Homo sapiens: one gene and its partners. The protein of the gene in region 1 purifies or fractionates together with the protein of each later gene. This does not show direct contact. Each region holds a gene or a part of one and is shown in the gene's direction. Other genes may lie near its edges.

The links.
Region 2: the proteins of PSMD9 (region 1) and RAI14 purify together in Homo sapiens (affinity purification with mass spectrometry; 2 studies listed by BioGRID and IntAct, with this or other methods). This does not show direct contact.
Region 3: the proteins of PSMD9 (region 1) and AKT2 purify together in Homo sapiens (affinity purification with mass spectrometry; 3 studies listed by BioGRID and IntAct, with this or other methods). This does not show direct contact.
Region 4: the proteins of PSMD9 (region 1) and PSMD5 fractionate together in Homo sapiens (co-fractionation; 2 studies listed by BioGRID). This does not show direct contact.

What each region holds. Positions count from the first base shown.
Region 1 is NC_000012.12:121,912,580-121,919,549, forward strand, and holds the end of PSMD9 (26S proteasome non-ATPase regulatory subunit 9), read left to right. Parts: intron 1-3,276; coding exon 3,277-3,365; intron 3,366-3,704; coding exon 3,705-3,732; 3' UTR 3,733-5,718; downstream 5,719-6,970. UniProt on the Homo sapiens protein: Acts as a chaperone during the assembly of the 26S proteasome, specifically of the base subcomplex of the PA700/19S regulatory complex (RC).
Region 2 is NC_000005.10:34,826,732-34,833,478, forward strand, and holds the end of RAI14 (ankycorbin), read left to right. Parts: intron 1-3,000; coding exon 3,001-3,066; intron 3,067-3,956; coding exon 3,957-4,034; 3' UTR 4,035-5,881; downstream 5,882-6,747. UniProt on the Homo sapiens protein: Plays a role in actin regulation at the ectoplasmic specialization, a type of cell junction specific to testis. Important for establishment of sperm polarity and normal spermatid adhesion.
Region 3 is NC_000019.10:40,232,534-40,240,495, reverse strand, and holds part of AKT2 (RAC-beta serine/threonine-protein kinase), read left to right. Parts: intron 1-385; coding exon 386-451; intron 452-1,522; coding exon 1,523-1,591; intron 1,592-2,404; coding exon 2,405-2,527; intron 2,528-4,110; coding exon 4,111-4,239; intron 4,240-4,391; coding exon 4,392-4,606; intron 4,607-5,145; coding exon 5,146-5,233; intron 5,234-5,348; coding exon 5,349-5,451; intron 5,452-6,544; coding exon 6,545-6,624; 3' UTR 6,625-7,962. UniProt on the Homo sapiens protein: Serine/threonine kinase closely related to AKT1 and AKT3. All 3 enzymes, AKT1, AKT2 and AKT3, are collectively known as AKT kinase.
Region 4 is NC_000009.12:120,832,673-120,840,634, reverse strand, and holds part of PSMD5 (26S proteasome non-ATPase regulatory subunit 5), read left to right. Parts: intron 1-7,178; coding exon 7,179-7,323; intron 7,324-7,962. UniProt on the Homo sapiens protein: Acts as a chaperone during the assembly of the 26S proteasome, specifically of the base subcomplex of the PA700/19S regulatory complex (RC).

The sequences.
Region 1 (6,970 bases):
TTTAGGCTGGGCGCTGTGTCTCATGCCTGTAATCCCAGTGCTTTGGGAGGCTGAGGCGGGCGGATCACTCGAGCTCAGGAGTTTGAGACCAGCCTGGGGATCATGGTGAAACCTGTCTCTGGAAAAAAATACAAAAATTAGCCAGGTGTGGAGGATTGTGCCTGTAGTCACAGCTACTCAGGAGGCTGAGGCAGGAGAATCGCTTGAGCCCAGGAGGCAGAGGTTGCAGTGAGCTAAGGGATTGCATCACTACACTCCAGCCTGGGCAACAGGAGTGAAACCCTGTCTCAAAAAAAAAAAAAAAAAAAGAAAGAAAAAGAAAGGTCTATTCAAGTCCTTTGCTCATTTTCTTTTCTTTTCTTTTTTTTTTTTTTTGAGACGGAGTCTCGCTCTGTCACCCAGGCTGGAGTGCAGTGGCACAATCTCGGCTCACTGCAAACTCCGCCTCCTGGGTTGACGCCATTCTCCTGCCTCAGCCTCCCGAGTAGCTGGGACTACAGGCGTCCACCACCAAGCCTGGCTAATTTTTTTTGTGTGTGTATTTTTAGTAGAGATAGGGTTTCACTGTGTTAGCCACGATGGTGTCAATCTCCTGACTTTGTGATCTGCCCACCTTGGCCTCCCAAAGTGCTGGGATTACAGGCGTGAGCCACCGCGCCTGGCCTTTTTTTTTGTATTTTTAGTAGAGACGGGGTTTCACCGTGTTAGCCAGGATGGTCTTGATCTCCTGACCTCATGATCCGCCTGCCTTGGCCTCCCAAAGTGTTGGGATTACAGGCGTGAGCCACCACACCCAGCCCTTTGCTCATATTCTAATCAGATTTTTTTGTTGATGTTGAGGTATAGGAGTTCTTTATATGTTCTGGATGTTAAATCCTTATTAGATATATGATTTGCATGTATTTTCTTTTTTCTTTTTTTTTTTTTTTTAAGACAGAATCTCACTCTGTCACCCAGGCTGGAGTGCAGTGGCACATTCATGGCTCACTGCAGCCTTGAGCTTCTGGGCTCAAGTGATCCTCCCACCTCAGCCTCCCAAGTAGCTGGGACTACAGATGTGCGTCATCAAGCCTGGCTAATTAAAAAAAATATATGTTTTTTGTAAAGACGAGATCTCTCTTTGTTGCCGGGCTGGTCTTGAACTTTTGAGCTGAGGCAGTCCTCCTGCCTGGGCCTCTGAATGTGTTGGGATTACAGGCATGAGCCACCGTACCCAGCATGTATGTATTTTCTCCTATCATGTGGGTTGCCTTTTCACTCTGTTAATAGTGTCATTTGATACATAGAAGTTTTAGATTTTGATGGCATCTTGTTTTATTTATTTATTTTTATTTTTTTGAGACAGGGTCTCACTCTGTTGCCCAGGCTGGAGTGCAGTGGTGCAGTCACAGCTCACTGCAGCCTTGACCTCCCTTGAGCAATCCTCCTGCCTCAGCCTCCCGAGTAGCTGGGACTATAGGTGCACACCACCATGCCTCGCTAATTTTTATACTTTTTGTAGAGTCAGGGTTTCACCATGCCCAGCCTGGTCTTCAACTCCTGGGCTCAAGTGATCTTCCTGCCTCCCAAAGTGCTGGGATTACTGGCGTGAGCCACCGTGCCTGGATATCGTATTTTAATTTGTAATTTTTTTGGTATGTACTCCCCCTGCTTTAATTTTAATTTTTTAAATTAAAGTACTATATACAGGCTGGGTGTGGTGGCTCATGCCTGTAATCCCAGCACTTTGGGAGGCTGAGGTGGGTGGATCACCTGAGATCAGGAGTTCAAGACCAGCCTGGCCAACATGGCGAAACCCCATCTCTATTAAAAATACAAAAATTATCTGGGCATGGTGGCACGTGCCTGTAATCCCAGTTGCTCAGGAGGCTGAGGCAGGAGAATTGCTTGAACCGGGGAGGCGGAGGTTGCAGTGAGCCGAGATTGTGCCACTGTACTCCAGCCTGCGCGACAGAGAACCCATCTCAAAAAAAAGAAAGTAATACATACATGCCAGGTGTGGTGGCACATGCCCAAAATCCCAGCACTTTGGGATGCTGAGGTGGGCAGATCACTTGAGCCCAGGAGTTTGAGACCAGGCTGGCCAGTATGGTGAAACCCTGTCTCTACTAAATATACAGAAACATTAGCTGAGCATGGTGCTGCATGCCTGTAGTCCCAGCTACTCAGGAGGCTGAGGCACGAGAATTGCTTGAACCTAGGAGGCTGAGGTTGCGGTGAGCTGAGATTGCACCACTACACTCCAGCCTGGGCAACAGAGCAAGACTCTGTCTCAGAAAAATAAAGCAATACATACGCATGGTTAAAAAATTAATGATATGGAAATATATAAAAGTAAACATCTTCTTTTTCCAAAGGACTAGTCCTCTCTGGAAGTAACCACTCTTAACAAGTTTTTCCATGTTCTTCCAGAAAACTTCGCACACTAGAGCAACACAGGTGTCCTTTTAGAAAATATTATCGGCCGGGCACGGTGGCTCACACCTGTAATCCCAGCACTTTGGGAGGCTGAGGTGGGTGGATCACCTGAGATCAGGAGTTCTGAGACCAGCCTGGCCAACATGGCGAAACCCTGTCTCTACTAAAAATACTAAAATTAGGCGGGTGTGGTGGCGGGCACCTGTAGTCCCAGCTACTCAGGAGGCTGGGGCATGAGAATTGCTAGAACCTGGGAAGCAGAGGTTGCAGTGAGCCAAGATTGTGCCACTGCACTCCAGCCTGGGTGACAGAGTGAGACTGTGTCTCAAAAAAAAAAAAAAAGAAAGAAAATATTATCAAATAGGTTCATACTTTGGTGGGGTTTTGGTTTGTTTTGACTAAAACCCTTCATTCTCTGTACTGTATTTGAACAATACCTATTGATGGACATTTCTGGTGTTTTCAGTTTTTGAATTTCTACACAGTCCTGGAATGAACATTTCATTTGTATGTCTCGCTAATTTTTATACTTTTTGTAGAGTGCTGGGATTACAGGCATTTGTATGTCTTGTAATTTGTATGTCATCTTGCAATTGTGTACTATGTACCTTGGATGTACCTTTTAAAGATCGTTGGTGGTGGGACACGTGTTTTTTGAGGAAGATGGTACTGAGGTCAGCACCCTGGCTGCCCTGAGAGTGCAGTGCCACGTTCCCCACCCTCTCGCCAACCACAGGATTATGCTGCAAATGTAAATCTTTACCAATTTGATAGGCAAAAAATGGGATCTCAGCATTTTAGCCTGCATCTCTGAGTACTAACGAGGCTGAACACGAAATGAGCTTATTTTCTTTTCAGAAGCCCCTGAATGTGACAGTGATCCGCAGGGGGGAAAAACACCAGCTTAGACTTGTTCCAACACGCTGGGCAGGAAAAGGACTGCTGGGGTAAAGTATCTGTTTCTGTTCATTCTCACTGGGGCATCATTTGAGTGTTTGTTAAACATGAAGCTGGAGGGGAAGGCTGGGGAGACATTGGGGAATAATGGGAATCCCCAGTTTGCATGGAAACTGCAGATAAATCCTCGTGGTAGGAACGAGACTACAGCTCTAGAAGCAGAGGGAGCCCCAGAGTCTCTCCTGGGAGTCTCTCCAGTTCATTCATGCACTAGGCATTTGCTTTAAAAGAATGAAAGAACATTGGTGAAAAGGTCAGAAGGGCTCAGCCTCTGACCTTCCTGAAGGGAGCCTCCAAACTTACGCCATTCCTTTTCTTCTTTCTTCCAGCTGCAACATTATTCCTCTGCAAAGATGATTGTCCCTGGGGAACAGTAACAGGAAAGCATCTTCCCTTGCCCTGGACTTGGGTCTAGGGATTTCCAACTTGTCTTCTCTCCCTGAAGCATAAGGATCTGGAAGAGGCTTGTAACCTGAACTTCTGTGTGGTGGCAGTACTGTGGCCCACCAGTGTAATCTCCCTGGATTAAGGCATTCTTAAAAACTTAGGCTTGGCCTCTTTCACAAATTAGGCCACGGCCCTAAATAGGAATTCCCTGGATTGTGGGCAAGTGGGCGGAAGTTATTCTGGCAGGTACTGGTGTGATTATTATTATTATTTTTAATAAAGAGTTTTACAGTGCTGATATGACCCTGTTGTCACCCCAGCTGAATTTCTTATGACCCTCCCAAACCAAAGCTCAGATGGGGTCAGAAGAGCTTCATAGAAAGTTGGGCAAAACAGGCTAGCAATTGCAAAGTCAGGCTTTGACCAACATATTTCTTTGCACTGAGGCCTTGCTGCTGTGGATACGGAAATGGTTAAGTACTGTGCTTCCTCAGCAGCTGGGCTGTCAGGGCCATAGTAGCTCCCTTTGGAGAACAGGGAAAGCCTGGAGGCTTCCCAGGTGGCCCAGCGTGGTGTCCTGTCAGCTTCCTCTTTAGGAACCCACCAGAGGGCAGCAAGCTCCTTTCACTTCGCTAGTAAGAACCCCTCCGTTTTTGTGTGTTTTTGTTTTTGTTTTCTGGAGACAAGGTCTTGCTTTGTCACCCAGGCTGGAGTGCAGTGTCGTGATCAAGGTTCACTGAAGCCTTGACGCTGTGGGCACTGCCTCAGCCGCCCAAGTATCTGGGACCACAGGCGTGCACCACCATGCATAGCTAATTTATTTTTTGTAGAGACAGGGTCTCCCTGTGTTGACCAGGTTGGTCTCGAACTCCTGGGCTCAAGCAGTCCTCCTGCCTTGGCCTCCTAAAGTGCTGGGATCACAGGCGTGAGCCACTGCGCCCAGCCCACTGCTAGTTTGACTTTTTATAATTGAACCTCCTGGCTATGCCCTGAGATCAGCGCTATTTTGTAAACCGCTGAGGTATGGATAGGAACGAGTAGATCAGACCTCTTGAAAATGCTTATTCTTCCTCCCTTTTATTTTTTGTCTCTTTTAAGATGGTAAAATGGTTCTCAGGGATTCCTGCCAATACTTTGAATTATTTTTTCCTCTCCATGGTATCAGTGTTCATTTCCCCAGTTCTTGCACACCGCTTTCTGTTTTGGCAGTTCTGCCAGGCAAGCCCTGTGTTCCTTGGGACTGGTTTTGCTGTGGTTGGATACAGATACCAGCTTGCCTTGATGGGATTGGTATTGCTGTGTGCTTCCAGCCACAGGTTCTCACACTCAATTCCAAAGCCTTCCTATTGGGCGAATTCCCTCAAACTCTATTTGACCTGACAGCCATACGTATTCCCCTCTGGTAGCCACAGACATGCTGTGTTTACCAATGTTTGCTGTTTAAATTGCATGTTCTAATTCCACGTATTTTCCAGTCTCTTTTATAAAGTCTCAGACTATAATAAACACAGCTTGCCCAGTTTATCCTTTCTTTTTTATTTTAAGATGTATGCATATTAATCAATTTACCATCACTGGGGCATGGCAGTGTGGGCGGGGAGAATTATTCACATTCTCCTAAAATGACAGCAGCAGAGAGCCTTCTGCCTCAGTGGCTCTGGCTGGTTTCCTGCAGGGGTCCCAGTGGAAACCCGTGTGGCCACCTGTTGCCGTCTTCCATGAGATGTTAGTGGAGAGCCACTTTGACGTGGAATGATCCTAATAGATATAGCCAGACCGGTTTTGCGGAAACGCTTTGTGCTGAGAACCGCAAGCTGGTGCACCCTGTGTCATATCTGCCCCCAGCCAGCTGGAATTGTCTGCAACACGCGGTGCCCGGTGAGGAGGCAGGCAGGACGGTTGTGTGCTGCATCCATGAGACCTGGAAATTCAGTTTGCTTTTGGAAAAGAGCATTGTATCCGAGTTCATACTTCTCCACCCCATCTTGCCAAGGTTGCGGAAAGTAAAAATTGGCAGTATTGGCCGCTGCAGCTTCTTAGGGGACGGGACCATGTGAAAAGGTGGGATCGTGCGAGCGGAGGAAGGACAGAAAAGCGAGGAAAGTCTATGCCGCCAGCGACCGGCAGGAGGCACGTCGGGCACGCTCGTCACCGTTTCCTGGCACGTGACCACCGCCCTGCCCTGTCGCTTTAGGGCCTGTCGCTTCCGGCGGTGGCGGTTGCCATGGGGACGGAGCTTGGGTGGCAACCAGAACTAGGGAGCTGGTGGAGAAGGTGGCGGCCGCTGGAAGGAGGCCCGGGAGGTGGCTGAGGGGTCCAGGCGGCGGGACGACTCTGGCCTTTTGAAGACCGGGGTGGGTGCTCTCTGTAAGTCCGGGGCGGAGGCCACGCGGCCCTGGCGAGGGGGCCCCCGACCTGGCGGGGTCTGGTGCCCCTTGGGGGGCGCTCACCCGACCTGGCCCTTGTGGGGCCTGGGGCGGCCCCAGGGAGACCTGAGTTGGAGGCAGAGGCCGCACCTGGGCTTTAATCCCCTCGCAGAGCCACGCACCTGGCACCCCTGCCCCAAACCCCTGCGGCTCGAACCCGGCTGTCCAGACGCGCCGGCGAAGTTGGGCTCAGTCAAAAGAGGCTCGGTGGTGAGAGCCCTAGACTTGATTCAGAGCAGTGATTTTTCAGCTGGAGAAACTAAGTGCCAGAGAAATCTCGTTCTTACTAGCGGTGTCATCTTGAATAAGTCACTTCACCTCTCAGAGCCTCAAACTCATTTATCCATTCATTATTTATTTATTATTATTATTATTATTTTTTTTTTACCAGAGATGAATTTGAGGAGCTGATACATTTAGTGCTGAGAAAGAAATTAAGAAATAGAAATACCTTTTCTACTCTGTACTCTCTGGGACTTTATTTTCAAAGTGTTGAGTTCTCTTATTCTAATGTCACTGAAAATGTAGGGATTTTTTTTGTTCGGGGTCCAACTCTTTAGGGATAAAGTATCCATCCTTATTGTTTTCCTAGTTCAAACTCTTGTTTGTTGTAAGGAATAAATGGAGAATATGCCAGAAGGCTTTCAAACTGTTCATTTCTTTGCACATTAGGGTTGCTTTTCTCTCAAATAATAACAACTGCTACCATTTTTTCAAGCTGTATGTGCCAGAATTGTGATGAGCATTTTATATATGTTATCACTTCTCTACAACAACCCTAG
Region 2 (6,747 bases), on another chromosome or scaffold:
AGGCTATGTGCTCACTCATACCCTAACTTTTTACCCCTTCTCCTTTTTCTGCAACAGTCTTTCCCCATCTCTGGCAGTGGCAAGAGCTTTTTCTTGTTAGGGGCCAGGATCTCTAGTAGTTGCATCTCTATATATCTGAAGCTGCTTCTTGGCCCCTCTCCTTATTTCACCCAGGAAAGCCCTTGCTTATCTAAATTTGTTTCCTGGGTCCATTGTAACAAATCACCACAAATTTGGTTTAAAACAACATGAGTGTATTATTTTACAGTTGCATTGAACTGAATTCCAAAATCACTTTCACTGGACTAACTTCAAGTTGTTGGCAGGGCTGGTTCCTCCTCGAGACCATAGGAGAAAATCAATTTCCTTGCCTTTTCCAGTACCAGAGGCTGCCTGCATTCTGTGGCTCATGGCCCCTTACTCCATCTTCGAGGCACATCACTCCAGCATCTGCTCAGTCTTCCCATCTCCTCCTTCAGCCTTTGATTTTCTTGCCTCCCTCTTATAAGGGCTCTTGTGATTACATCTAAAGCCCACCTAGATAATCCACGATAATCTCCCTCTCCATCTCAAACCCTTAATTTCATCTGCAAGATGCCTTTTGCCATATAAAGTTTAACATTCACAGGTTCTGGGGATTAGGATGTGGACATCTTTCAAGAGCCATTATTTAGCTTACCACAATATCTGTTAAGGTTTGAGTTGGCATGGGTACATTCCGTTTTCTACCTAAAGTCCAGGGTTAGTCTGTCCTGGACTGTCTCTAGCTTCCATATACAAACAGAACATGGATTTGATGATTTCTTCGGAATAGACCTAACTGTAGTGAATTCAGGTTTCTGCAGTCCTTACTCTGGCTGGCCACAAAGTTCAATGCTAGCTTTGGAGGAAACAGCTCTAGAAATGGTGGATACTTAGGAGAAGCTGCTCTTTACTGTGTTCTGCAGGTCATTCTTCTCCTGATAAAATGGTATTACAGACTTGTAGATAAAGTGCTATTGGTTTATACAGTAATTCTTATAATTACGCAACATGTGTTTGTTGAGCTCTTACATCAGTATTATACATGGGGCTGATGATATAAAATGAGTAAGACTCAGTCCCTGCCCTCAAGGAGTTTATACTCTATATAAGTTATCAGCAAAGAGATGCCCAGCATACCGTGGGCATACAAAGGAAATGTGTCTACCCAATCTTGCTGAGTCATGAAAAGGTTCCTACGGGAGTTACACTTGTGCTGAGTCTTGAAGGCCTGAGTAAGAATATGTTGTTACTTAGCAAGGACTGACATATGGCACTAGCTGGCTTTTGGGAACCTTGGTGAGAACCATTCCAGTGGAGTGGGGAGGAGGGTAGAATCTGGACCGCAGTAGACTGGCTGCTAGAGAAGTAAGTAAGTAGATAGGTATCTGGTGGGGCTAACCAGTCGCAGTAGGGGTTGGGGGAAGCCTGAAGCAAGCTTGCTGGAAAGATGGGAAGTGGTGGTTAGGGTGTGGGATGCTTTCAGTTGAGATTTCAGAGGTGGTAATGATAGAGGCAGGGCTACAACCATGACAGGAGTTGCTGAACTGAAGAGGAGCATGTTATTAAAGCTGAAGTTGAGGAACTGAGAGGTCCAGGTGTTAGATGGATCATTCACACAGATATCAAAGCCAAGCGAATGATGACAGAGGCAGTGATAGAAAGGAAGCCAGATCAGAAGATAAAATCATAAATAATTGAGTAGAGGTTGCTGAAAGGTGGGGAGGGAACAACACAGAGAAATGCCAAATGTGCCTTCTTATGATGTGAACTTAAAGGACGGGTTTTAAAATGTCCCTTAATAACAGGAAAGATACCTCATACTCTGACACTGATGGGGGGAAGGAAGAATGGGTATTATGGACTTTTGTACATTTTTGAAGTAATCCATATATGATGGTCTCAATTTTCATGATGAATTAGGAGGACAGGTTCTTAGAACAAGAGTTTCAGAGATAAGACCCTTGAAACAGCCACTGAGAGGAACTGGAGTAATAGCTCAACAAGGAGAAATAGAAGCATCAGCGGCTGTATTGAGGAACCACTGGAGATTGGGGCCACCACCCTCTTTGCCTTCTTAGTACACTGATAGCTAAATAATTGAGCTCCCCAAGGATTATACAATGCTGGCCATATAGTGGGTAATCAATAATTCCCTTAAAAATAATAGGCTTTAAAAATTAAATTAGTACATATTTGGTCATTGTAGAAAAGTTGAAAAATAAAGAAAACTCTAACAAGTTCCTATAAATAAAAATTTTCCATAATTCAATAACTCTGAGATAATCACTTTTTACATTTGATATATTTCCTTGCAGTATTTACATTTAATGTAGCTGTATTTGCATAAGTATATGTACATATATACACACACATATATACATATATACACACATATATAGACACACATACACACACACACACATACACACACACATATATATATATATTTTGAGACAGAGTTTTGCTCTGTCACCCACGCTGGAGTGCAGTGGCGTGATCTCGGCTCACTACAACCTCTGCCTCCTAGGTTCAAGCGATTCTCTTGCCTCAGCCTCCTGAGTAGCTGGGATTACAGGTACTGACTACTACGCCTGGCTAATTTTTGTATTTTTAGTAGAGACGGGGTTTCACCATGTTGTCCAGGCTGGTCTCAAACTCCTGACCTCAAGTGATCCACCCACCTCAGCCGCCCAAAGAGCATATATTTTTAAAACCAAATGTGGGGTGATAATAACTCCTTTTTATACAGTTTTTTCTAGAGTTGACATACCAAGACTTTTTTCCCTAAGATGATTGACAAGTATTCAGAAATACACAAGCCAGTAAGGCCACAACAATTTTAGAAGCTTCCAGTGCTAGCATAAAGTGGAGGGGACCACTTGGGTAGCATTTGGCTGCAGCTTTCTCATAGTTTTTTGTTTTTGTTCTTTAAAGATCTCTTAAGCTCATTAATAATGTGAAATATTCCCTTTCTAGGAATGCAAGAAACAACACCAGGAGGTCATATCAGTTTACAGAATGCATCTTCTGTATGCTGTGCAGGTATGGTTATGCCCCTTGAAGTATCTGGACATCCTAAAGAAATACGGCAGCAGATGTTGACAGAACTCCCATCATTTAACTAGGAGAATGAACAAGAATTAGAGGAGAATCCTTTTCACTGGAAAGCCTGAATATGCCTTTTGCATTGCTTTGGATTCTGTGTCAGGAGCCTTGTGCCCTGTTTACCAGGAACAGCCCCATCTTTTAAAGCAGGGCCTCACTCTGTCATGCAGGCTGGAGTGTAATGGCATAATCTCGCCTCACTGCAGCCTCGACCCACGGGCTCAAGTGATCCTCCCACCTTAGCCTCCCAAGTAGGTGGGATTACAGGTACCCACCACCGTACCTGGCAAATTTTTGTATTTTTGTAGAGATGGGGCTTTGCCATGTTGCCCAGGCTGGTCTCAAACTCCTGAGCTCAAGCAATCCACCCGCTTCGGCCTCCCAAAGTGCTGAGATTACACGCATGAGCCACCATGCCCCACCCTCCCATCATTTATTGAGGAATGAGGGATGATGTGGTCCTCCACTGGGAAGACGGGGGCTTTATTTTCCAGCAATGCTGATCTTCTTAGTTACCAGTGCTGCCTTGGCTCTATGATGCTTGGTGTTCTGGCTGCTGGACTCACATTTGCAACTGAGACCCCAGATAGCTTTTGCTGAGGGTTTTGGTAGACACTGCCACCTCATCTTCCAGCTGGATAAAGGCAGGGCCCTTTCTTTGACTCAGTTCCTCATAGAAATTTGGGAAATGATAGGGCTGACATTCCTGTGAAAGATGTGGGAATTAGCCCAGGTCTTCATTGCAGTCAGCCATCTCATTCCCCAGAGAAGAAAGTGCCATGGCTTAATTTAGGTTCTAATGAGTATCTTGTGTTTGAATATCCTAGGGCCAGATGGATGAAGATGTCCAGAAAGTACTGAAGCAAATCCTTACCATGTGTAAAAACCAGTCTCAAAAGAAGTAAAGTGGATTCCTTGGCAGGACACTGCCCCTTGTCATCTGTCTTTGTGTTAGATCCAGAGTTGTCGGCAGCCGCTGCCATTGTTCTCATTCGTGGTATGCACTGTGGCCTAGCGTAGCTTCTTCCCTTTCCAAAGGTTTCTGAGGACTTCTCCCAGGAGAAGACTGCCCGCCTCAGAACTGCTTAGAGACTTCAAACCAGCAGAGGTGAAAGTCCCTGTCATCCCTTCAGATTCCAGAGCTGGGATCAGCCATGCCCAGAGGTCTGGTCCTGATGCTGGCAGGGGGGCCCCCTCCTCCATCCCTGACTGGCTGAGTGGCTTTATCACCACCGAGTGATGTGCTGAGGCCTCCTGCAGTGAATGCTCCTTCCATTCCTGTACTCGGGCAGTGCCATTCAGCACAGGAGAGCTCTTTTTGCCTTTGGCTTTCAATTCCAAAACATGATTTAATTTCTAACTAAATTAGTATGGCACTAGTTATGAAGTATCTGCTTAAAACCCTTCATCATGATATCCTGTGGATTTAAAAACTCTAATTCCATGTTTTCTTCCCATCTGCCTTATATATCTCATCACCCTGCTTATCAATATTCAGTTTGATGAGCACTATTAACTAAAATATGAAACTTAAAAACAAAAGCAAGTTGTCCTTAAAAGTTCTTTTTTTAAGTAAATTGTTGACATACTGCAAATTTTCTATGCAAACTTGCCTCCTGCTGTTATCTGTGAAGCTCAGGAAATCCAAACATTTGTGTTTCAACAAGGGACAGTAAACTGTGTGTTTACAGCCAAAAGAAATGCCTCATAGTTCTTAACCTCAACTTTTGTAGAAGTATTTTTTTCTCTGTAATATTTTTATTGGCTCATAAAGATGTTTTCATATCTGAACTCCTAAATAAGTGAAATTACAGTAGATTATATTAACAAAATACTTTTTAGGTAGCCATGCTTGAGACTTTTTAAAAATATAACTTTTTCCTTAAAGTTTTCAGCTATAGCAAAAGGTAGTTATGTATGCCAGACCTAATATGAGCTGCCACCAACACCCCTAGAACTTTCAGCCATGGTGTCTTCAGAATTGTAGCGCATTTCTGAATCTAGCAAATCCTCCTTTTACCCGTTGAATGTTTTGAATGCCCTGACTCTACCAGCGCCCATAAATGATCTCTAGAAGGACTGTTAGTACCAATCTGTTTTTCAACTTTGAAGCTAAAAACCCTGATATGGTAATATTATGGTGCATAGCAGAGGTCTCGGAAAAAAAATATTTCTGTTCACTTTACTTTCAGGTTAAAAATGTTTCTAACACGCTTGCAACTTCCCTTATGGCATTAATCTTGTTGAGGGAGAGAGACAGAATCCTGGACTCTCCAAAGTATTTAACTGAAAGTAGGGCCTGCTCTGACAGGGCCCATGTCCCACAAGGCTGCTTGGCCTCAGTGGGTGCTTGGCTGTGCTGGATGATATGTTGATCTGTATTGGATAAGGACCAATGACAGCAAAGCAAAAATGGCTTTAAAGCTTGGTGTTACTTTTCTTAAGTTGTTTAATTATAGTTAAGCAATTTCAAAAATGCTCCAAAGAAATGTGAAAGGACCTTTTGTCACAGCACTTCAGAAAATACACAACAGCCCCTTCTGCCCCCGCACAGAAATGCTGCAGAGTATATAAAACTTGAGACATTTTTGTAGGATGCCTGACGAGGTGTAGCCTTTTATCTTGTTTCCGGATGCATATTTATTACGAGTACTCTGGTTAAATATTGAAAAGTTATATGCTGTAGTTTTTAGTATTTTGTCTTTGTAATTTACAGAAGTTATTGGAGAAAATAAACTTGTTTCATTTTGCATTTCTGGTGTTGATTTTTGGTGTATTCAGAAGCATATCTGCGTGGCTTCTGAAGATCAGTTCAATAGCATTTCAGTGTAATAGGTTTTCTAGTCTGTGCTATGCTCAGCTGGTATGAGTTGTCCGCACTGTCTCACACAAAGTCTCACATCATTTCCTTTTCCCAGCTCTTGGATTCGCCCTGAGCTCTGCCCTGAGTATCAGCCGCTTTGGGGCAGTTGAATCACAGTTGCCTTTAATTCACAATTGCCTCTCATTTAATCTGCAGTCTGTTTAACTGTTTGGAAGCCTCCGCTGGATTTTTTTTCCCTCTTGCTTCTTGCTTTTTTTGAAAAAGTAATACATACATATGTAAAAAAAAAATCCAGATACATTTTCCTGCCCCATTACAAAGACAATTCAATTAATTCCTGACAAAACTCTTGTCAGGTGAATTCTGGCAAGGTTAAAATCATAATTAAAATTGTTGCAGGTTATAATCATAATCAAAATTACATGAAATAGGTACAGCTACTTAAGAAGTTAGCATTGTTTATCATACTCCAATGTAACAAGGCCATTTCCCTTCACTTACAACATGATTCCACCTCTACTTCAGTTTCATTGTGCCTTCCTACTATACCCTGAAACTTTATTTCAAAGAAAGCATGTGTGTGATACTCAACTGAACCTTTTATTTCAACTGTGGCCAACCAGACAACTCAGAAGGTGACTTCATGGGGACACTCAGCTGGAGAGGAAACTGAGATAAACCCAAACCAGTCATCTCTGATGGACAGAAACGCCTCATAAGGCAAAATTGGGATATGAAAAGAAACTCTCCTGCCTCCACAATTAGATAGCAGCTGAGATTGTAGGACAAATGAA
Region 3 (7,962 bases), on another chromosome or scaffold:
CCAAGAAGCACTGTTTTTCCTTCTTTGGGCAAGAATGCTTTCTAGGTGGGACTTCCCACAGCCTGTGGTGGCACCTCGGGGCTCTCGTGATGTCTGTTTGTCTCCCTTGCAGGGACGTCACAGGTGTCTTGTCCCTAGCAGCCTGGTCCTTACATTGTGACATTCCTGCTGACTTTTCACCTGTGGCTTTGAGAGCCACTGATGATCCTCGTCTGGGTCTGCTATTTGCTGAGGGTTTGCAGGCTTTCACTTTTCACTCCTGTGATTTTCTGCATTTATGGCTGGGAATGGAATTGCATTTCACAAGGCCTTGCTCCCCTTCGTCGGGGCGGAGTGGGCAGGTGTGGTGTTGCCCACCAGCCCCTCACCCGCAGTCTGTCTGCAGGATGAAGTCGCTCACACAGTCACCGAGAGCCGGGTCCTCCAGAACACCAGGCACCCGTTCCTCACTGTGAGTTGCCCTCCCCTTCCCAGACAGTGTGAGGCCAGCCTTTGGACAGAGCTCAGAGAGAGAGCCCTAATCTTCTGGTACAAAGCACAGTCTTGGGGTAGGCCAGGCGGGCAGGGCAAGGTGTTGCTGCGCCCTGCCAAGTCATCCGAACCAAGACATGTGGTGGGGGTGAGCAGGCTCGGGGAGTGGGAGGGTGACAGCTTCTTCATAGATGGTGGCTTCATGTAAGCATTTGAACTAACTGAAGATATCACATTATTTGCTGGCTGCTGTCTCTATGAGTTAGGAGCACTTAGCCCAGCTGGTTGAAGTGGAAACATTATTTTTTTTGTTTTTGTTTTCAGATATGCTCATAGAAGCAGATGTGTTAGCATTGTGTTGTCTGTCAGCCTGGACTGAGTAGATGCCTGTTTGGGCTGCAGTCTCCATCAAGGCCAGTGGCCACCAGTTAAATGGACTAGATTGAGGATGGCTTATGTATCATTTCTTTATCTCAGTTGCTGTCCAGGTATCCTATTAAGCCACAGTACTTTTTCAAATAAAATCTTATGAGGTACCTCAGTGCAGAAAACAGAATAGTTGAGTTGTCATGAGCTGAAGGACCCCCTGGTGGGAGTCTCTGAGGAACTCTCTGTAGATCTCCTTAGTGCAGTGGAGAACTACTGTTTGTTGACTGACAGCCTGTCCATCCTGTCATTGAAGTTGGCTCCCAAGCCTTTGCCACTCCCAGCCACAGCAGACATCACTTGTGTGTGTAAGTTGAACACATTTTACTGTAAAAACAAGAGCCATGGTTGCTCAGAACAGCTCTAGTTCTCCCTTGGCTGTGCCTGATGGAGGCAGAGGACAAGATGGTTCAGCATGTAACCCTTTCCTACCGCAGAGCCATGCCTTCACTTAATGCCCCAAAAGGTGCAGCCGGTATGTGAACCCCATATGGCTGACTCCTGGGGGCCCCAGCCAGGGCAGGGTGTGTGTGTGCAGAATAAGCAGGGCCAGGGCCCTGCCCTGGCATGGCTCAGCAGAGCCCTCCTCCCTCCCACCTCCCACCCTGCTGCCTTCATCCCCCAGGCGCTGAAGTATGCCTTCCAGACCCACGACCGCCTGTGCTTTGTGATGGAGTATGCCAACGGGGGTGAGGTGAGCCGCGGCTGCCTTGACTTTGCCCTCTGGGGCCTCCTTCTTTAGGGTGGGGCGGGATGGAGAGGAGCTGTGGGTGAGATGGAAGGGTGGAGGGAAATTTCAGTGTCATCTAGTGCCCCTCTCCCTTGAGGCAGGCGGCTTCGTCTCCATTTTGGGGGGGCAGTCACTGAGGCTCAGAGAGGTTAAGTGGCTTGCCCAAGTTTACACAGCTAGTGAGTGGGTGGGTCAGGTCCAAACCAGTCCAGAGAGGTGTGGAGAGGGCTGTGGGGCGATAGCACTGGGAAGGATGGTCTTAAAGGCCCCAGAGAAAGCCCCCAAGGGTTAAAACCTAGCAGCCCTCCGTTCCCGTGTCCTCTCGAAGTGAATTCCCGCAGCCGCTCAGCTTCCCCTTACAGAGTCGCCTCACTTTTGTCACCCACTCCTTGCCTCGCGCCTTCTCTGTGCAGTGGTTGGCACACCTGCTTTGGGATGCGTGGTTTGCTCATCTGTCTGATCTGGGCTTGCCCATGGCCTATTGTTACTTGGTCATGACGTGTGCTTCTTTTTGCCTCCATGCCATCCTCCCTCCTGTCTCGGATGTCTCTCCCATACCCTCTCATGGGTGCCTCCTGGCAGACCCTCGCCCTTCCCCCCAGCTCTGTGTCACTTATGAGCTTCTGCGCTCTGCCTTGATTGGTCCCTCTAGCTGTCACTTGCTGGTTCATGATACAGGTGTCACCACATCACTGCGCTGGGGCAGGGGGCTGGGAAGGTGAGGGCAGGTGGGTGGGCTGGGGCCTGACCTCCTCTCCCCACCCCTTCCTCCTGCAGCTGTTCTTCCACCTGTCCCGGGAGCGTGTCTTCACAGAGGAGCGGGCCCGGTTTTATGGTGCAGAGATTGTCTCGGCTCTTGAGTACTTGCACTCGCGGGACGTGGTATACCGCGACATCAAGGTTAGTGGCAGGGTGTGCGCCAGGCTGACCTGTGGCATGCACACCACATGGGACTCACACTGGGGAAGTTGGGCTGAGCTTCTGCCCTCATTCGCCAGGCTCCCCACCAAGGTCCAGGGTGGTGGCTGCCCTCATTCGCCAGGCTCCCCACCAAGGTCCAGGGTGGTGGCTGCCCTCATTCACCAGGCTCCCCACCAAGGTCCAGGGTGGTGGCTCTGTGGCAAGTTGCCCCAAGTAGGGACCTTCCCAAGCCTCCCATGAGCGCTCCTAGGCCACTAGCGGAGTGTCAACTGCCACAATACCTACTTTATTTGTATTTATTTATTTATTTATTTTTGAGGAGTCTTACTCTGTTGAGTGCAGTGGTGTGATCTCGGCTCGCTGCAACCTCTGCCTCCCGGGTTCAAGCGATTGTCCTGCCTCAGCCTCCCGAATAGGTGGGATTACAGGTGCCCGCCACCATGCCCAGCTAATTTTTGTATTTTTAGTAGAGACGGGGTTTCATCATATTGGCCAGGCTGGTCTCAAACTCCTGACCTTGTGATCCACCCACCTCAGCCTCCCAAAGTGCTTGGATTACAGGCATGAGCCCCCGCGCCCGGCCAATTTTAGAAGATAGTTTGGCAGTGTCCACCAAAGCTGAGCACCAGTCATCTGCCCTAGCTGTGTGCACAGGAGAAGTGGGGACACACACTCACCTTAGAAAGTGTCCCCCTCACTCAGCAGCAGGACTTACTCTAGCCCCAACTGGAACAACCCAAGTATCCACTGTGAGAGGAACAGTCAGATCCACTGTGGAGTGTTCTCACAGTGGGACGCCACACAGCAGTTAGGAATGAGCTACAGCTACACACGACAGTGTGGACGCGTCTCATAGGCTAATGTCGAGGGAAAGCCGCACAGAGGAGGTGAGTCCACAGTTCACAGGTGTGTCTGTGTGCAGTGGTACAGATGGGAAGTAGAGGTTAATTCTTGTGGGGGATGGTCAGTAACCGGGAGGGGCACACAGGGCCTTCCAGGGGGAGATGCCACCTCAGCCTCGCAAGTAGCTGGGACTATAGGTGTGTGCCACCATGCCTGGCTAATTTTTTTTTTCATATTAAGAAATATGGAGATGGGGTCTCGCTGTGTTGCCCAGGCTGGTCTCAAACTCATGGGTTCAAGCAATCCTGCCACCTAAGTCCCCCAAATTGCTGGGATTACAGGTGTGAGCCACTTTGCCTGGCTGCATATTTCATAATTAAAGGACAGAAAGTCTAGAAAAAAAGAATAGAAGAAAGCTAGTGCCCCCACGTTCGAAATAAGAACCACAGTTCACAATGGGGACGGTGGGTGGACAGGGCCTGGCTCTCGGCTCTCCCTGCCCAGCTGTTCCCAGGTACCATGGGGGTGGGCCAGAGGGTGAGGAGGGTTGGATCTGGCCTCTCTCTGAGCCTCAGAGGGTGAGGCTGTGTGTGCTGGGCCCAGCCTGGCATGGGAGGGTTGATGTCCAGGAGCCCCGGGCATCTTTCCCTGGAAGGAAAGGCTGGGGTGGCAGGAAGCCTTGGGAGCATGCACCTGAGATCCGTTGACTTTTCCAACAGCTGGAAAACCTCATGCTGGACAAAGATGGCCACATCAAGATCACTGACTTTGGCCTCTGCAAAGAGGGCATCAGTGACGGGGCCACCATGAAAACCTTCTGTGGGACCCCGGAGTACCTGGCGCCTGAGGTGTCTGGGGTTGGTGGGGGTAGGAACGTGTGAGGCCAAGGGTAGGGGGATCCCCCAGACCTGTGTGTTTCCAGCCCAGATGCCCTGAGGGCAGGACTGTGATGCCAGCCTCAGGGCCACGGGCCCAGCCCTCATTTCTCCTCCATCCTCAGGTGCTGGAGGACAATGACTATGGCCGGGCCGTGGACTGGTGGGGGCTGGGTGTGGTCATGTACGAGATGATGTGCGGCCGCCTGCCCTTCTACAACCAGGACCACGAGCGCCTCTTCGAGCTCATCCTCATGGAAGAGATCCGCTTCCCGCGCACGCTCAGCCCCGAGGCCAAGTCCCTGCTTGCTGGGCTGCTTAAGAAGGACCCCAAGCAGAGGTGAGGGCTGGCGTCGGCCCCACCCAGCCCAGCGCCAGCTGCTGCCACTGTCCCTGCGGCCTGGAGGGGGCAGCGTCCACAAGGGTGCTCGCTTGTAGGGTCGCAGTGTGTCGTCCCCACACAGCCCCTGAAAACGTCCACAGTGGCACTTAGGGAGTGCTTCCCCCAGGGCAGGCCCATCCTTGACACTGCCTTATTTTATGGGGACACTGAGGAACAGGGCATCCCCTGGGCCTGGCTGGGGCCACCAAACCATATGTGGCAGAGCCAGGATAGGAACGGAGCCTGCCCTACTAACTCCCTTTCTGGACTCAGGGTAAGGCCAGGCAGTGAGGACACGTGGGTCCGGGTTGCTGACTCCCTGGCTCTGACCCTGGGCACGTGAGCTCCCTCCCTGAGCCTCGGTTTCCTCCTCTGTGAAGTGGTTTGTGGTCAAGACAGAATCATTAAGGGCCATACAGGGCCTGCCTGCTCCGAAAGCCCGTCTGCCCGAACCCAGCTGCTCCGGGAGGCAGGTGCTGACGGCCGTCTCTGCACAGGCTTGGTGGGGGGCCCAGCGATGCCAAGGAGGTCATGGAGCACAGGTTCTTCCTCAGCATCAACTGGCAGGACGTGGTCCAGAAGAAGGTGAGCCCCACTGCTTGCCCCAGCAGGACCCTCAGGGACCTGGCCCACTCGTGGTGACCTTGGTTGAGGCCTCCTGGCCTCAGGGTCCCTGAGCCTGAGCTCCTCTCCTCCGTAGCTCCTGCCACCCTTCAAACCTCAGGTCACGTCCGAGGTCGACACAAGGTACTTCGATGATGAATTTACCGCCCAGTCCATCACAATCACACCCCCTGACCGCTGTGAGTGCCTGGGGCCCCCGCGCTGGTGTGCCTGCCCCAGGGGTGGAGGGATGGGATCTGCTCTTAACTCACTTCTCAAGGAGGGCCCTCGAAGGCCCCCGCTTCATGTCTGGGAGATTTCCCCAAGTCTGCTCTCAGGCCCTTTTGCTGTTGGTCCTCTTTGGACCTGGTGAGGCCACCAGGAGCCATTGACTGCAGCACGTTCTGGAGCTCAGTCGGGGGGCTCAGGGCAGGAGGCAGCCCGGTCCCTGAGCCTGGCTGGGTTCACTGCTTTACAGCTGTTTGGGTTCTTACTCTGAACTCAGCCCAGGGCTGGGCTATGCTGGGGACACAGCACTGATTGAGCCAGCCCTGGGCCCTGCCCTGGAAAGCTCCCAGCCCAGGTAGGGTGGGCGGCCTGGAGTGGTCAGGGCTAGGGCGTGGGAGGCCAGGGACTGGGGAATCCCAGAGGAAATATCCGACCTGGCCTGCAGTTAGGGAGGGCTTTCTAGAGGAGGAAGCAAACGTGTCAGCTGGCCGGAGGAATGACGTGTGGGATGCCAGCAATGGGAGAAGCATGGCATAGCTAAGGACCGGCAGCAGCCAGGGAGATGGTGGTGAGAAGAGAGGGCATGGGGCTGGAGTGCAAGGGTCTGGGGGCCACTGGGAGGGGTGGGGACTGCTTGCATGGCGGGAGCCAGCCATGGAAGGGTTTCATACAGAGAGGGACAGGGTTAAAGCAGGCCTTTAGAAAGCCCCCCTGGCTGCCCGTGGAGAATGGATGGGAGGGTGCGAGAGGCAGGCCAGGACAGGGCTCTGGGCTGGACTCTGGCATGGTGGTGTGTGGGGCAGAGAGAAGGTGGGAGGCTCAGAAGGCCCTGCCAGCTGTGGGGCGCATGGGCAAGGGCACAGGAAACTCCCAGAGGAGGCCGCCCGGGGCTCAGGTTTGGGGAGTGGGTCCGTGGCTGAGGGCCTCCATTGCGGAGGGATGGGCCTTTCCTGTCCTGTCCTGTGGGCAGCCCCCGCCAGCTGGGGCCGTTTCCCCAGGGAGTCTGGGCAGGTGTCCCAGGCCCTCTCCTGACTGGTCCTCCCCATCCACCTCTGCCGCCCACAGATGACAGCCTGGGCTTACTGGAGCTGGACCAGCGGACCCACTTCCCCCAGTTCTCCTACTCGGCCAGCATCCGCGAGTGAGCAGTCTGCCCACGCAGAGGACGCACGCTCGCTGCCATCACCGCTGGGTGGTTTTTTCCCCCTAACTTTTTACTTAGCCTTTTTGGTTTGTGTCCCCACCCCCACCTCCTCACCCCCTTTCCAGTTCTTCTTCAGGCCCCTCCCAGACGCACCCCAGCGGCCCCTGCAGCCCCTGCCTCCAGCCTCCAGCCTCACCTTTGTGCCCAGACTCGCATTTGGAAGACTCCACCTCCCGCCCAGGCCTGGGCTGTTGGGCGGTTGGAGATTCAGGTTTTAATCCACACAAGCCCCAGTGAGGGGTGAAGCATGGCGCCTGGGGCCTGCCTGAGTTTCTGGCCTGGGTGTCGTGCTGGTGTCTGCCTCCGCGCTGCTGCATCTGGACGAAGGCTGCCTTCTGGTGGGACGCGACACCCGGCAGACAGTGGTGCTGCCTTCCAGGCCCCGTGGCCTAGGCTCGGAGTGGCCAGGCACGGGGCGGTCCAATCCCCCACCCGCTGTCCCCCTATGGGGGCAGAAAAGCAATAATGTCCAGGGGCAGGCAGGGGCCCTTGGGAGCTGCAGGGCTGGGGGTTAGGGCTGCTCCCTGGTGAATGGAGTCAGATCCTAGGATCTGTACCATGGGGAACCAGGAGTGGCCGGGCTGGGTGCCGCCTCCTGGTCCGGCCTCCTCCCCACCAAACTGTCCTCACCCTATGGATGAGGCAGGAGGAACATTTGGGGCCAAACCTGCCTGCCTCCCAGCCCCGTGCCTTACTAGGGCTTCCTTCCAGCTGGCCTTACCTCCCGCTGGACCCTGGGCCTGGCCTGGCCCCACTGGGGGCTATGGGCTGGGCTCACCCTCTCCTCTGCGGGGGTGGAGGGCCACCAGCCTTGGCTGTTACAATCTTACACCGGACAGTATTGGGCCCCATGGACTTGGTCAGGGAGGGGTGGGGGTGGGCATCTCTGGTACCTATTGGGGTGGGGGGCCTCTGAAAAGGGAGGCTCCTAGGCCCCCCTCACCCCTCCCTCTCCCCAGGGCCCCACGTTCTGCAGCCTTAAGGTTGAACATGAGTGCACGTCCATGTCAGTGCTGTGGGACTCCTGTGCGTGCCTCGGACTGCGTGTGTCGGCGGGACGCAGGCACACGTGGGTGTGTGTGCATGTGTGTTTGTGTGAGGGCAGCGTGTCCTCCAGTGTGCATGGTGTGTGGGCTTGGGCCCCATCCCTGGCCCGAGCATTTCATCCTGTGGGGGAGGGGTGCTGACCTAGTGGGAGGAGCCCCACTGTGATCCATGAGCTGCCCTGCCCACGCCTCCCCTCCCTGTAGCAACACCTCTGGGTGTTTGGAGTTTAGCT
Region 4 (7,962 bases), on another chromosome or scaffold:
AAAAAAAAAAAAAAAGCAAAAATTAGCTGGGCTTGGTAGCGCACACCTGTAGTCCCAGCTAGTTGGGAGGCTGAGGCAGGACAATCACTTGAACCTGAGAGGTGGAGGTTGCAGTGAGCCAAGATTGCACCACTGCACTCCAGCCTGGCAACACAGTGAGACTCCATCTCAAGATAATAATAATAATATAATAATAATAATAAAAACACTTTGTAGACCGGGAGCAGTGGCTCACACGTGTAATCCTAACACTTTGGGAGGCTGAGGCGGGTGGATCGCTTGAGCTTTGGAGTTTGAGACCAGCCTGAGCAACATGGTGAAACCCTGTCTCTACAAAACAAAACAAAAAATTAACTGGGCGTGCGTGCCTATAGTCCCAGCTACTTAGAGGGCTGAGGGGGAGGATCCCTTGAGCCCAGGAGGCAGAGGTTGCAGTGAGCCAAGATTGCACCACTGCACTCCAGCCTGGGTGACAGAGTGAGGCCCTTTTTTTTTTTTTTTTTTTTTTGAGACGGGTTCTCGTTCTGTTGCCCAGGCTGGAGTGCAGTGGCAGGATGTAAGCTCACTGTAACCTCGCCTCCCAGGTTGAAGCAATTCTCCTGCCTCAGCCTCCTGAGTAGCTGGGACTATAGGCACGTGCCACCACCACAACGCCCAGCTAATTTTTTGTGTTTTTAATAGAGATGCAGTTTCACCATGTTGGCCAGGCTGGTGTCGAACTCCTGACCTCAAGTGATCTGCCTTGCCTGCCTCGGCCTCCCAAAGTGCTGGGATTACAGGCATGAGCCACTGCGCCCAGCCAAGACTCTGTCTAAAAAAAAAAAAAAAAAAAAAAAGATTAAAAAAACATTTTATAATTCTTACCTGGATTCTGGGGAAAAAAAGGAAAAAAAAACCACTTTGTATTTGATAATTTGATCATTTAAAAGAGTTTTGAAATGTTTGTGATCAAAGACTTTCAAGTGACCTTACTACTTGAAAAGATTATGAACCACTGAATCAACAGTGGATGATTTCAGAGCGCTTTCTTGGCTCTGACCTTCTAAGATTCCTTCCTTTTCTGTAAGTGTTCTCCATTCATGATGTCTATCAGTTAACATTATTTGGGTCTGCCTATGAAATGTCTCTTATTTGTCTCCTCTTTAATTCAAGCCCTCATTTTTTCCCTATTGCTAGGTCTGTAGTGTTAGTCTGACTTCTCCTTACCTCTGAAATTCCTTTTCTAGCAAATTCCTTTTCTAGCAAATTCCTTCCCACCTTGTAACCCCAGTGAGCATACATCTCGAGTCAGCTGGTGCTAATCTTTTCCGTGGTTTCCCATTGCCTGTAGTGAGTTTTTAGAATGCCATTTGGGCCCTTTACAGTATATTTCCATCCTACTTTTCCAACCTCACTTTTTTCCTCCACTCCACTTCTTTTCATCTGCTCCAGCTACCATGTGGCACCCTTATTTTTCCTTAAGCCTGACTTGCACTTTCCTAACTTTACTCATACCAGCCTTTCTAACTGAAATACTTTGCTGTCTGTCCATATTCTGTCCATCCTTTTAGGCCCACTAAAGAGCCATCTCCTCCAAAATATTTTTCTCAATTATTCCAGTTGCAAATGACTGCTCCTTAGATCTGCTAAAGGACATTATTGTTATTTCTGTTAATGATAATTGACACTATTACCTATGTTATAGTTCTCTGTGTGTCTATTTCCAGTTTGTAAATTCTTTGAAGGCAGTGACCGCATTTTGTTCATGTCTGCATCCCTCTTAGGGCCCAGCACATAATGCAGTATACGCCCAATTAAATTTGAGACTCACAGAGTTTAGAGTGGCCACCTTGTCCAACCTCTCCTATTAGAGATGAAGAGACTTCCAGAGGTCATACCGCAAGTTGACAGCAGAGATGCAGTAGGAACTGAAGTGAGGCAGAATTTGAGGATTCAGGTCCATGGGGAAGATAGTTTGCTGAATGAAGGAGCAGTGCTTTAGGGAACAATTTTAATGGAATTTAAAGACAGAATAATTCAGAACTGGATACATAGTAGATACCAACTGCACCTTGTGGGAATAATTCTCTGGATAGTATCTGGCAGTCTTCAGATACTTTGCTGTTATCCTGGCTAAACCACATAAGTTGTTGTGTGTTGGTTCACAATCTGATCTTGCAGATGTAAGTTAGAATCTTGACAGTTTTTTTTGAGAGAGTTTAAGTCCTAAGATTACTGCTTTAGAACATGAAAATCAAACAAGACTAATTTTAAGCATTAACTCTTTGGCTCGTTGGCAAAGAAGGGTCACATAGGATCTGAAATTTGTGCACTGTGCAGTTTAACGTACCACTACTTTTTTTTAAACAGCTTTCAAAGGTATAATTTATATACAATGAACTGCACTTAATAAAACGTACAAGTTGGCAAGTTTTGACATATGTATATACCCATGAAACCATCGCCACAATTAAGATAGTGAATGTATCTTTCACTCCCAGAGGCTCCCTCATACCCCTTGCTAATCTCTCCCTGTTTCAACCAGTCAACCACTGATCTGCTTTCTCTCACTGTAGATGAACTTGCCCTTTATTTTGGCCAGACATGGGGGGAAGGGATCATACAAATGGAGTCATACATTATGTATTCTTTTGTTTGGTTTCCTTCACATAGCATAGTTATTTTGAGATTTATCTATGTGGCATGAATAAATAGTTCATTCCTTTTTATTGTTGAGTGTAAGTCCATTGTATGAATGTACTACAGTTTTTTATCCATTCCCCTGTTGGTGAACATTTGAGATTTGAATTGTTTTCTGTTTGGAGATATTACAAATGACAGTGCCGTGAGCATTCATGTACAAGTCTTTACATAAAAATATTCTTTCTTTTCTCTTTGAGTAAATAGCTAGGAATGAAATGGCTAGATGGTATGGTAGGTGTATATTTAACTTTTTAAGCAACTGGCAAACTGTTTTCCAAAGTGGTTATAGTATTTTACATTTCTACCAGCAGTGTATGAGAGTAGATCATAGACCTAAATATAAAACCTAAAACTACAAAACTTCTAGAAGAAAACAGGAAAAAAAAATGTATGACTTTGAGTTAAACAGACTTCTTTAATATGACACCAAAAGCATGATCTATACAAGAATAAATTGAGCTGGGTGTGGTGGCTCATGCCTGTGGTCCCAGCTATTCAGGAGGCTGAGGTGGAGGCTACAGTGACCTGTGATTGCTCCACTACACCAGCCTGGGTGACAGAGAGAGCTTGTCTAAAAAAAAGAACAAAGTGATACAAAGTAGAATTAATCAAAATTAAACATTCGGTTCTTCAGGCTAGGTGGTGGCTAACGCCTGTAATCCCAGCACTTTGGAAGGCTGAGGTGGGCGGATCATGAGGTCAGGAGTTTCAGACCAGCCTGACCAACATGGTGAAACCCTGTCTCTACTAAAAATACAAAAATTGGCTGGGCGCGGTGGCTAACGCCTGTAATCCCAGCATTTTGGGAGGCCAAGGTGGGCAGATCACGAGGTCAGGAGATAGAGACCATCCTGGCTAACACAGTGAAACCCCATCTCTACTAAAAATACCAAAAATTAGCCAGGCATAGTGGCAGGCACCTGTAGTCCCAGCTACTCGGGAGGCTGAGGCAGGAGAATCGCTTGAACCTGGGAGGCAGAGGTTGCAGTGAGCCAAGATCGCACCACTGCACTCTAGCCTGGGCAACAGAGTGAGACTCAGTCTCAAAAAAAAAAAAAAAAATCGGTTCTTCGAAGGTTACATACAGTTAAGAGAATGAAAAGAAAAGTCACAAATGGAGAAAAATCTTTGTGAAGAATATATCTGATAAAAGACTTCTTTTCAGAATATGTAAGGAGCTTTCAAAACTAAATAGCAAGAAAATAAATAACCCAATTAAAACATGGGCCAAAGATTTGAACAAGAAGTACAGATGGGGCCAGGCATGGTGGCTCACACCTGTAATCCCAGCACTTTGGGAGGCCAAGGCAGGTGGATCACCTGAGGTCAGGAATTCGAGGCCAGCCTGGCCAACCTGGTGAAACCCCATCTCTACTAAAAATACAAAAATTAGCTGGGCTTGGTGGCAGACACCTGTGATCCCAGCTACTCGGGAGGCTGAGGCAGGAGAATCACTTGAACCCAGGAGGTGGAGGTTGCAGTGAGCCAAGATCACGCCATCGCACTCCAGCCTGGGCAACAGAGCGAGACTCCATCTCAAAAAAAAAAAAAAAAAGTACAGATGATAAATATGCACGTAGAAAGATATTCAACATTAAATAGGGAAATACAAATTAAAATTACAGTGAGATTCTACTGCACACTATTAGATTGGCTAAAATTTTAAAAGGCACAGAAGCAATGCAACCCACATGTGCAACCAAAGTGTCTATGAAGGGATGAATGGATAAACAAAATGGGGTATATACATATGATGGGATATTGTACATCTTGCCTCAAAAAGAAAGGAAATTCTGACAGATGAACTTTGAAGACGTTGTGCTAAATGAAATAAACCAGACACAAAAGGATAAATGTTGTATGCTTTTACTTACATACCTAGAGTAGTCAAATCTAGAGAGACAGAAAGTGGAATGGTGGTTGCCAGGTGCTTGGGGAGGGGAGAATAGGGAGTGTTCAATGGATGCAGAGTTTCTGGTTGGGAAGAGGAAAATGTTCTGGAGATGGACGATGGTGATGGCTGGACAACAAAGTGAATGTACTTATTCCCACAGAACTGTGCGTTTAAGAGTGGTTAAAATGGTAAATTTTACCTGTAATCACATTTTTTTTTTAAAAGGAAAAGAAAACCATACTTGTAAGTATCCTCATTCCTCCTCTTCCCCGTTCCTCCAGCCTCTGGCAACCAGGAATCTACTTTATTTTATTTTATTTTTTTTTTTTGAGACAGAGTTTCGTTCTTGTCGCCTAGGCTGGAGTGCGATGGCGCTATCTCGACTCACTGCAACTGCCGCCTCCTGGGTTCAAGCGATTCTCCTGCCTCAGCCTCCTGAAGTAGGTGGGATTACAGGCGCCCACTACCACACCCAGCTAATTTTTTTTGTATTTTTAGTTGAGATGGGGTTTCACCATGTTGGCCAGTCTGGTCTTGAACTCCTGACCTCAGGTGACCCACCTGCTATGGCCTCCCAAAGTGCTGGGATTACAGGCGTGAGTCACCGAGCCTAGCGGAATCTACTTTCTATATGGATTCGTCTATTCTGGACATTTCATATAAACAGAATCATTCTCAAAAGGAAGCCTTTTGTGTCTGGCTTATTTCACTTAGCATAATATTTTAAAGGTTTATTCATATTGTGATATGTATCATTACTTCATTGCTTTTTATGGCTGAATAATATTCATTATATGCACATAACACATGTTTATCCTTTCATCACTTGGTGGACATTTGGATTGTTTCCACTGCTGTGAACATTTGTGTACAAGTTTTGTGAAAATAGCATGTTTTCAATTATCTTTGGTATAAAAACATTCTTAATACTACCTTAGGTTCAATTATGCAAAGTGAAATTCCTGAATTAAAAGAGTATGTTCATTTTTAAGGCTTTTCATTTGTATCATGTAGTTACCTACCCAAAAGGTTGTATCAGTTGAATTGTGTACTACTACTAACAATATATTAGCCCATTTATTTGTAGTGTCTATTAAGAGACAAGAAAATTGTTCTGAAAACATCTTCTGTATCTACCACTGGTAGTCATCAGTTTCTCTTACATAGTTCTTCCCTCTTCTCTCTATCCTCACTGCTGCTCCCCTGGTTTACTCCTTCATCACCTCTCACCATTTACTGCCTTGTAATTGAAAATTCTTCCCCTAACACTGGTGCAGAGTGAATTCTATAAGTCAGATCTCGTCATTTTACTTCTTTAAGACCACTTATGGCCTGCCATTGATTTTCTGGAAGAAGTCTAAATTCCAAGCATGACATAAAATACCTGTTAGAATCTGGCTTCTGTGCATCTTTTCAGTTTCAGTTCTTGTCCTTCACCTCACCCTTTTACCTTCTCACCACCTCTCTCCCATTCTGACCCCAATCATACCAAACTACTTGTTCCTTGAAAGTATAATACTATGTCTTATTCCTCTCTGCCTTTTCATGTGCTGCTACTCCCTCTACCTAGAACACTTTTCTTCTGGATAACTCCTACTTTTTCTTAAAATTTAGTTTAGATGTTACCCTTCTGGGAAGCCTTCCCTGTACCCTCTGTTCTTTTTTAAGCTCCTATAGTTTCTAGTCTTAGCCCATAGCGTTTATTTATCTGGATTACAGTTGCCTTTTTTTTCTGTATCTTTCATTGTATTGAGCTCCTTAAGACTAGAGAATATATCGGGCCAGGCACGGTGTCTCACACCTGTAATCCCAGCACTTTGGGAGGCTGAGGTGGGAGAATCACAAGGTCAGGAGATCGAGATCATCATGGCTAACACAGTGAAACCCCCGTCTCTGCTAAAAATACAAAAAGTTAGCCGGGTGTGGTGGCATGCACCTGTAGTCCCAGCTACTCGGGAGGCTGAGGCAGGGGAATTGTTTGAACCCAGGAGGCGGAGGTTGCAGTGAGCAGAGATCGTGCCACTGTACTCCAGCCTGGGCAACAGAGCGAGACTCTGTCTCAAAAAAAAAAAAAAAAAAAAAAGGCCAGGTGCGGTGGCCCAAGCCTGTAATCCCAGCATTTTGGGAGGCCGAGGCAGGTGGATCACCTGAGGTCAGGAGTTCGAGACCAGCCTGGCCAACATGGTGAAACCTCGTCTCTAAAAATACAAAAATTATCCCAGCATGGTGGCAGGCCCCTGTAATCCCAGCTACTCGGGAGGCTGAGGCAGGAGAATTGCTTGAACCTGGGAGGTGGAGGTTGCAGTGAGCCAAGATCAGGCCATTGCACTCCAGCCTGGGCGACAGAGCAAAACTCCACCTCAAAAAAAAAAAAAAAAAAAAAAAAGAAGACTAGAGTGCATATCTTATTCTTCTCTGTTGCCCCAGCACAGGCAATGCGCATAATAGGTACTTAGCAAATGTTTAGTAGGTGAGTGAAAGCTGCTGTTTCAAAAAGAAGTCTGTGTGGAGGAGACGCTGACGCAAGCTTCAGCTATTATTAGGTTGTTACTTCCTACCTGGGCAGGATATGAACTAATAAGATTTATGATGTCTCCTTCAGGGAAAAGACTACTTTGTGTGTATCCATTCTGGAGAGATTGCTCCAAGCTATGGAACCGGTTCACGTGGCCCGGAACCTCAGGGTTGACCTGCAGAGGGGACTAATTCACCCTGATGATTCTGTAAAAATCCTCACTCTTTCCCAGGTATGAAATTCTACTAGGAACCGACATTGACCACCTGCTCTGGGCCAGGTTCTGCACTGGGACAGAAAGATGAAGAAAGCACAGTATTTCTCTCTCTCCTTCCCTCTTCCTTCTCCCCCTCTCCTCTGCTCCCTCTTTCCCCCTAGGAAATGTGTGGTCTATTCCAATGTGCATAGCTAACTATAACCTGGGAGATACAAGCTAAAGAAAGAAGTTCCATTAAGTACCATCTAAATCATTCATTAATCAGATACTGACTGAGTTCCTTTTACATGCCAGGCATGGTGCCATATGCTGTTAGAGTTACCAAGATAAACAAAACTGATTACTTTCCTTCAAGGAGCTCCTAGTGTAAAGAAAAAGATTCCTATGTGTTCAAATAGCTCTCTGCCATTTTAGATTCTTTACACTGGATGAACCAAATGCTATTGTAAAGGTCACTAAACCAACAATTAAGACAGTAACTCTTATCATCCTGGTAACCAAAGCATCCTTGCTATTTGAGTGAAGAGCTGCTGCTAAGGATTATCTTGTTGAAATGTTAGGAGCTAAACAGTTACTCAGTAGATACTGAACTACTGTTTTTCCTTTTCTGTGTTTATTCAGCAAAAAAGGGCGCTGGGCACAGTGGCTCACGCC